Regions from separate parts of the Homo sapiens genome. Here region 2 is linked to region 1. A link means that fine-mapping ties the variant in region 1 to the expression of a gene that starts in the linked region. Tissue or cell type: whole blood. Region 1 holds a variant in brackets; the other region holds the start of a gene. All regions are shown on one strand. Distances are between the middles of the regions. Region 1 has its middle 41 kb from the start of MAGI2. Region 2 holds the start of MAGI2-AS3 (MAGI2 antisense RNA 3).

The links.
Region 2: it holds the start of MAGI2-AS3, and the variant in region 1 is fine-mapped to the expression of MAGI2-AS3 in whole blood (INTERVAL, PIP above 0.99).

The regions. Positions count from the first base shown.
Region 1 is chr7:79,492,230-79,496,622 of GRCh38, forward strand. No RefSeq gene overlaps it. Among named protein-coding and RNA genes, the nearest start is that of MAGI2, 41 kb to the left of the region's middle. The variant AT/A (reference allele first, on the strand shown) is at 1,872.
Region 2 is chr7:79,450,833-79,455,225 of GRCh38, forward strand. MAGI2-AS3 (MAGI2 antisense RNA 3) reads left to right here and starts at 2,125. Exons shown (of 4, transcript NR_038346.1): 1 at 2,125-2,359; 2 at 2,755-2,823. MAGI2 (membrane associated guanylate kinase, WW and PDZ domain containing 2) reads right to left here and starts at 2,835. Exons shown (of 22, transcript NM_012301.4): 1 at 2,188-2,835. The coding sequence starts at 2,488. RefSeq lists an enhancer at 1,281-1,575.

The DNA of each region.
Region 1 (4,393 bases):
CTTAATGTTGTAGAAGGGGCCTGGTGAAAGGTGAATGGATCATGGAGGTGGACTTCTCCCTTGCTGCTCTGGTGATAGTGAATGAGTTCTCATAAGATCTGGTTGTTTAAAAGTGTAGCATCTCCCCCTGCTCTCTTCCTCCTTCTCTGGTCATGTTAGAGGTACCTACTTCCCCTTCACTTTCTGCCATGATTATAAGTTTCCTGAGGCCTCCAAGCCATGCTTCCTGTACAGCCTGCAAAACTGTAAGTCAATTAAAACTCTTTTCTTTTTAAATTACCCAGTCGCAGGTAGTTCTTTATAGCAATGCCAGAACAGACTAACACAGTGTCTATCAGCTCTTAAAATTTTCTGAAATCTTTATCTTGAAAACCTTCTCCCCTCACCTTTTATTTTGGGTGATGGACATATCCACAATCTCTTTTGTGATTTTCTTGATTGGCTCTCTTGTAAATCCTGTGAAGTCAGGCACAACAACTGAACAGTTTTCTCTAGCAAGAATGTATTGCTTTGGCCTTAATGGCTTTCATGGATTTTCCTGTAACAACAAATGCCTCTTCAATGGTGTAGTCCTTCCAGACATTCATAATACTCTCTCCATCAGAGTTTCTTGACAATCTTTTCCATGGGGTACTGTGTGTAATGAGCCTTAAAGGCCCCTATGCTCCCTAATCTAAAGGCAGCGTTAGAGACATTGTGTTTGGGTGCAAGTAGACCACTTTAATGTTTTAGGTGTTGAATTCATGGGGTTCTGGGTGGCCAGGGGCATTGATTAATATCAAAAGAACTTCAAAACGCAGTCCCTTACCGGTAAGGTACTTCCTGACTTCAGGGACAAAGCATAGATGCAGCCAATCCAGAAAAAGCGTTCATATTGTCCAGGACTTCTTTTTGTACAACCAAAAGACTGGCAGCTGGTGTTTAGCTTTTTCTTTCAAGGCTCAAGGGTTAGCAGCTTTATAGATAGAAGCAGTCTGGATCATAAACAGGACTGGAGGTGGGAGAAGGAGGGAAATGCCTCATTTAGTAGCCTATACCCTACTGGAGTTACTTTACACCCTTTACATTACTTGTAAAAGCTGTATCTAGAAGACGGGATACATGACACAATGTTCAGATATGGGTACAAAATAGTACTAAAAGAAGTCAAATACTACATTTTCTACTTATAAAAAAGGAGTTGGCTCTGGGCAGCCAATAGGTAACAAGAAGGCATTTTGTTCCAAAGATAAGGCATAGACTATATGTTTGTGTCCTCACAAAATTTTTGGGTTCAAATGATTTTTGGAGATAGGGCCTTAGATCATGAGGGTGGAGCAGTCATGATGTGATTTGTTCTCTTATAAGAGGATACATGAGAGTTCTTCCTTCATCCCCCCCCCTTCTCTCTCTCTCCATCCCCTCTTCTCTCTCTCTCCTCTCTCTCTCTCTCCTCTCTCTCTCTCTCTTTCTCCCTCTCTCTCCCTCTCTCTCTGCTATATCAGAATACAAGGAGAAGATGGCCTTCTGCAGATCAGGAAGAGAGCCCTCCTCAAACAGTAAATCTGCTGGCACTTTGATCTTGGACTTTTTACCTGGAGAACTGTGAGAAATAAATGTTGTTTAAGCCATTCAGCCTATGGTATTGTGTTATAGCAGCCTAAATAAGACAGAAGGGGAAGGAGAAATGGAGGAAACAGTGAATGGGGTACTCAAAGGAAGATAAAACTGAAAAATAATATTTTTTAATTTTTTGCACAGGTTCCCTTTTTGAGTGCTTCGTTAACATCTTGGAATTCCATAGTAGCGCACACGTAATCTGCCTTTTATTCCCTTTAAAATTTAGTGTGTTAAAAAGCATGAATTATCTATAAGCCTTTACAGGAAAGAGA[AT/A]TTTTTTTTTCACAACACATAAGTGTGAAGATATCTAGCATTTGTGGTTGGGGTGTCATTTTTAACTGATAACATTCTGCTTTGTCATAGAGTTCCAACAGGAATGCACTAACTACATTACTTTGCTAATCTTAGCATTTGCTTCATATGGTTCTGTGTCAAATTTATTACTTTAATGTTGGTTTAGGACATACGACAATATTTACAATAATAAGCACTAAGAATAGTTTGTGTCCACAGACTACTGCAAGCCTTTGTGGGAGAGAGTGAGAATGGGGATAAGGGAGGTAAGAGATACCATGCTATATTTCAATAGAAATTACCGTCACTTCAGGGATTATTACTAAGTAAAGGAATTACAACAATATTTATTCATGCTTCTTTTTTATATTAAGGAAAAGCAGGATGATTATGAGGAAAGCTTTTATTTATAAAATTTTCACACAGGTTACTTATGAAAATCGCTCTACTTTTTAACCTTAGTTTCTTATATGAATATATGTTCTTTAGTCCATTTGAAATGTTTAATCAAATTAATCCTTTAATCTTTTACTGTTTTACTGAATCCAAATGCACAAAAAAAGCTAATCTTAACATATCTTCTCATGTTGTTTTTTCTGTTCATGATCATTTCCCTATATCACTAAAAACTGTTAAAAAAAAAAAACCTTTGGTAAGCAGCATACCATTTGCATACACAGATATTTGTGCAATTAAGCATTCCCTTTTGTACTATATATGTATGTTACAATTGGAATAGGTTCTGGATAGGGACTTAGTATACAAATGTTTTACGAATGTAGCCTTTAGGGCTACATGGCCACGTTCTCATCTCACCCTCAGTCAGTTCTTAGATACGTGAAGTTGGGCATATTACTTATTTCTTTGTATCTCAGTTTTGTCATCAGTAAAATGGGGATAATAATAGTATATACATTGGAGAATGTTTTGAGGATTATATGAATGAATATATGTAAAGAATTCAGAACATAAGTATTTTATCAACATTTGTTCTTATTATTCCCCTAAATACAGGCTAGAGAAGGAATTGTCCTTTGATCTACAGAACCTTAATATCATCTACACTCATGAGTTAATTAATTGGTAAGGTCACATGTTTATACACTTTGAAAGAATTTTTATAGAATAAAAATTGTGGTTCCATGGAAGCTTAAATGGACATTCCAGAAAAACTGTTCTACAAATTACAACTTTCTAGGAAGAAAACCTATTTTTTTCCAATTTGGTTCATAATCATTTGTCTATCTAGCTCTATTCTTCTTCTTTTTTTTTAATCAACAAAAAATTGTATATATTTAGAGCATACTTGTCCAATTCATGGCCCATGAGCTGCATGCGGCCCAGGACAGCTTTGAATGTGGCCCAAAACAAATTCCTACATTTCTTAAAACCTGACATTTTTTGGTAACTTTTTTAAGCTCAACAGCTATCATTAGTGGTTAGTGTTAGTGTGTTTTATGTGTAGCCCAAGACAATTCTTCCAGTGTGGCGCAGGGACGCCAAAAGATTGGAAACCCTTGATTTATGGTGTAAAACATGATGTTTTGATATATACGTATATACGTTGTGGAATGACTAAACCAAACCATTTAACATGTGGATTACCTCACATACTTAACATTTTTCTGTGGTGAGAACAAAAATTGTACTCTCTTAACAATGTTCCAGCATGCCATATATTGCTATTAACTACAGTCATTATGAAGTACAATACATCTCTTGAACTTATTCCTCCTAAGTAAAACTTTGTGTCCTTTGACCAACATTTCCCAAACCTCTCCACCCTCCAGCCTTTGAATACCACCATTTTACTCTCTGTTTCTATGAGTCCAACTTTTTTTACATTCCACATGTATGTAAGCAGTATTTGTCTTTCTGTGCCTGGCTTATTTCACTTACCATAATGTCTTTCAGTTTCATCCATGTTATCACAAATAACAGGATTTCATTCTGTTTGTGGCTGAGTAACATTCCATTGTGTATATGTACACTACATTTTTTGACTCATTCATCTGTTGATAGACACAGACTGACTCCATATCGTGGCTATTGTGAACAATGCTGCAATGAACATGTGAGTGCAGATATCTCTTTGACATACTGATTTCATATCCTTTGATATATGCCGTAGTTAAATTGCTAGATCATAGAGTAATTCTATTTTTAATTTTTTGAGGAACATCCATACTGTTTTCTATAATGGCTGTACTAATTTGCATTCCTACCAACAGTGTGTGAGAGTCCCCTTTTCTCTACATCCTCACCAGAATTTATCTTTTATCTTTTTGATAATACCCACTTTAACAGGTGAGAGGTGATATCTCATCATGGTTTTAATTTGCATTTTCCTGGTGATTAGTGATAAGCATTTTTTCATTAACTAGATCTATTATTCTTTCTCAGATAACTTTTGGCCATTTAATTTTTCTCCAGAAAGTTGTGCACTTCATCAGTGTTTTGGTTTTATAGAAATACTATAATAAAGCATCACAAGCTGAGT
Region 2 (4,393 bases), 41 kb before region 1:
CAACAGGGTGCTCACAAATTTTTGGAAAACTCTGTTAGAAAGCTCATGATTTAATGAAAGTAAAGCTGCTTCATCCTTTCAAATTTCTCATAGATTTATCACCATTTTGTCCTGTGGGCTATCACAGGATAGTCAGAATTCCTTTTCTTACCTGATAGCTTTTCGCTATTTAATGATAGCTTTCATTCTTTCACTTCTCCACGTTAAGTCTTTCCACGGCATTTCATAGAATACATCTATAATACACAATAATCTTCCTTTATTTCTCTTTTGAACTTACTCTTTGCTAGCGTGACAGTTTGCCAACGTCCGCCTCAACAAGGAGTGCTCAGAATTGAACACAACATTTAAGATGTGATGATCATTGCAAACTATAATAGGGCATCCGTTTGTGGGACTCTATTAAGTCCAATTTAACAACGCTTAACTTTTGCAGCCACGTTCCATGACAAATATCAAGCATTTGGCCAACAAAACCATGGTCATTAGTTGTGTAGTAGACTTTTCGTACCCAAAGATCTTTCCATTTATGTCTATTCCTATAAGGTGGTATTTTGACATCGAACATGTTAACATGAATCTCTGTATTTGAACCTTAGGTATCTTATCTTCAAAAATATCAAGTTACTCTATTTTCCTTCCTACCAAACTCATATCCCTTCAGTGTTAAATAGTATGGAGCTATGTTGACTTATAATAACCTATCTCAATTTATTACCTCTTAATACTCAAGAATACCCAAGGAAAACATTTTCTTGTATGGCAATTTACATTTAAGAAACCTTGCCCAGTACTTCTTTTTATCTTGTTTATTTTAAAACAAGTTTTTTAGAGAATAATTTAACAGTGCGGTACATCTCCGTAAAAGCATTTCTTAGTAGTTGATCATGATTAAGCGGCAAAATGCAGGTAATGACATGCTCAATTCCACCTTTGAGTCAGGACAAACAGTGTACATCGACGACAACAACAAACCCTTATGCTAATATGCCTGTGACGCAAATATCCATACATACCGCACACGAATTGTGCAGTGAGCTAAAAAAGAAAACAGAAAAGAAAAAAGCTACTACTTTATTCTACTTAAAGTTGTCCTCTATTCAAACTTTTATCTCACTCTTCTCTCCTTCTGCACCATAATTTTCTTTCGAGCAAAGACAGGGAGTTCTGGATGATTCCAATCTCCCCAAATCCACATCACAGCCTCCAATTGAGGTTCATTTAAGTCAGGTTGGAGCTGAGGGAGCCTGGGCTGGAACCGGCCAGGGTTTCATCCAGCTCCTCCCCCAAAACACGCCCCCCAAATCGGAGCCAGAGGAGAGCCCAACCACAGAGGACTTCCACTCAATGAGGGCAACCCCTGAGTAAAGTCCATGCGGACAACCATTCATCTCCTCCGACAACCATTCATCTCCTCCGACCCCCGCCCAGCACTAGACTGCGCTCCTAGCACCGCGCCTTCTTCCGGAGCCTCCTCCCCCGGGCTGGCTAGGGGTGAGCGCAGGGGTTAGTCAGTACGCACGTGACGCGCGATGCCCACATGACACGACCGTGAGCGGGGGAGGGGGACACGGAGTGAAGAAGGGGAAAAGTTACAGAAGACCCGTCAAAGCGCCCAAAGCAATTTGTCCCTTCTTTTCTTCGCCAGCGGTGGCTCACGGATCCCTAAGGGACAGCTGGGGACCCAGGCGCCCCCAGCCCAGCCCCAGAAACGCTGGACGCAGTTCTCCGCTCACCCCACCACCTTCTCTTCCCAGACCCGCTGGTGATGCCGCTGCACCCTGAAGTTGCTCCTTCCTTCTTTCCCTCCCTTCCTCCCATTCTTTCTTTCTTTTCTTCCTTCCTCCCTTCCCCAAAAGCTCTTCATCCGCTTCGGGTGATGCCACTGACGCACATTCAATTTGCCCCAGCAGCTCTGAGGAGGTCAGACCAGGCCGAGCACCTTCCAAAGGGGAGGGTCTAACTGAGCAAACAAAGTTGCACGCCACACCACAACCTGCCCCTCCCCTCCCTTTAGCCCCCAAGTCGAATCCCCGGCGAAACTCACTTGCACTGCGGGTGCTCTCTGGCCCCCACCCCATCATCGCGCAACACACCCCCTTCAACATGCGCGGCCACCCTTTCATTGCCCTGCGCCCCGAGCGGTCCCACCGCCCGGCAAAACACTGAGCAAGCCGCTGCTCTCACCTTGCTTGACACACTTGAGCCGGAGGGGGTCCTTGCAGTGTTTGATCACGGCCAGCACGTCCCTGATGGTGAGCCCCGCCACGGGGGTCTCGTTCACCTCCAGCAGCAGCTCCTCCGACACCAATTTGCTGCCGCTCTCATAGGCCACCTTGCCGGGCTTCACCTCCCCCAGGTAGGGGAACTGTCCATTCTCGGCGCCCCCCTTCAGTTCAAAGCCCAGCTGGCCCTCCGGGTTCCTGCCAATGACACTCTCATGGACTTTGCTAGTCCAGTGGCTTTTCTTTTTCAAGCTTTTGGACATGGCAGTGGGGCGAGTCGCCTCAGTTCCTGGGCTCCTTGGGGTTAGGGGGGCTGGTGGTGAGAGAATGAGGATGGAGGAGCAAGGGGGCCCAGGGGGAAGAACAGCAGACTTTGCCTTCGCCCCCCTCTATTCGGTGCTTTCCCTCTTCTTTGGATGGAGTGTGGACGAGGAATGGGGAGGATGAGAGGGACGGCTGGGCAGAGGTAGGAGAGCTTGGATGAGGTTGTGCTGTCCCTTGAATGACACTCAAGGCTGTGGCCCCGCAGCAGAGGAAGCAGTGGTGGTGGCGTCGGCGGCGGCGGCGGCGGCAGCCGGAGCGAGCAGTAGCCGAGCTGGTGAGCGGGTGTGGTGGGGGTGGGGAAGGAGGGTAGGGATGCCGGGGGCCACTCCTGCGTGGTGCGAGTGGGAACGCGCGCGCGCGCCTGGGTGTGTGTTGTTAGCTGATATCCATGGCAGCTGCAGTGGCAGGGTGCGTGTGCGTGTGTGTGTGTGTGTGTGTGTGTACTAGTTCTACTGTACTGGCAGACGGGAGGAGGCAGGGGAGGAGGGGCGCGCGCGCCGGGTGGGGAGCCACGGAGGGCTTCGCCGCTGCCTCCCTCCCTCCCTCCGCAGCTTGACCCGGTAGTGAAGGCAGAGAGAGAGGCAGGCTGGGTCCGCCTGGCAGCCTACGGGAGGAGGCGGGAGCCGGGAAGGAGGGGAGCCTAGGCCCGGCGTGGGGAGGCCGGCAGGAAGGGCCTCGAGCCCAGTGCGGACCTTTCTTCAGCCTCTGTGCGACCGAGCCGCGCGCCAGGCTCCTGTGCGAGGAGGACGCGCTGACTCCCTCCGACCTGGGCTCCGATGGAGCAGAAATAGCGGGACCTGGACTTGTGGCGCGCCTGGTGCCACATCTCGGGCTCTGCGAGCGTCCTGGCGCGGGATCCTGCCGTGAGAAGGAGTTGGGGCGGGGGACCCGGCGGGGCATTGCGGGAGAAGGCCTGGGATCCCTGGGAGCCTTGTAGCGTGGGGGAGTTCACTGTGTAGAGAGGTTTCATGTCTTCATCTATATAGTCACTTATTTGTCTTAAAGTTCTCGAAATTCCCTCTTAGAGAAGGAGAAAGTTAGAGAACTGGAGGCTGCGTACCCTGATTACGCAGAAGGGAAGCAGCCTCGCATTCCCCGGGGCAGGCCCCCGCCCGCGCGTCCCGCCAGTAGGGGAATTTAGCGGACGGCTGCGGTTGTCTGGTGAAAGGCTATCCAAGGATAAGGGGCTTCACTTTTCCCAAGTAGGGGAAAGAGAAGGGGTCTACAGGGCTAGGGGTGGAGGGAGCGGATGCAGTGAGCAGCCTCCGCAGAGAAATTGACAATTTAACCAGGGACCTGCGGCAGAGACAAGGCGGAGACACTCCCTTGCCCAGGAAAGCCGCCAGAGTCCGGCTTGTACCTGGGGAAGAATCCTTAAGACGGTCTGGCCCAACACTCCTTTGCTCACAGAGAAAGGGGAGAAGACTCCCGAGGGTGAAAATGGTACATTCGGAGCTGGAACTCAGCTCGCTGACCCCAAGCAGTGTTCCCTTCTTTTCGCCAGGTTTGCATCCAAGAGAGGGGAGGACAGGGGCAAAAGGATGCAGGGAGGCTGCTGATTTCCACTGAAGAGCTAATTTCCTGTGAGACATTAACAGTGATTTAAGAAAAAGATTCCTGTAACTGGTAAATGAATTTCATTTGCTTAACTTTTAGATGATATGTTTCAGGCAAAAAAAAAGTTGTGCACCCACTTATCTCTTTAAAGCGGAGGATGAAAAGCATTGAATAGGTAGGATTCTTAATGTCTGAGATGAAGGCGATGTAGGAGGCAAACAATACGGTTAAAAATGTTGAGTCGACCCAAACAGAAAGACCAGGTTTCAATCCAGACTCTGCGGCTT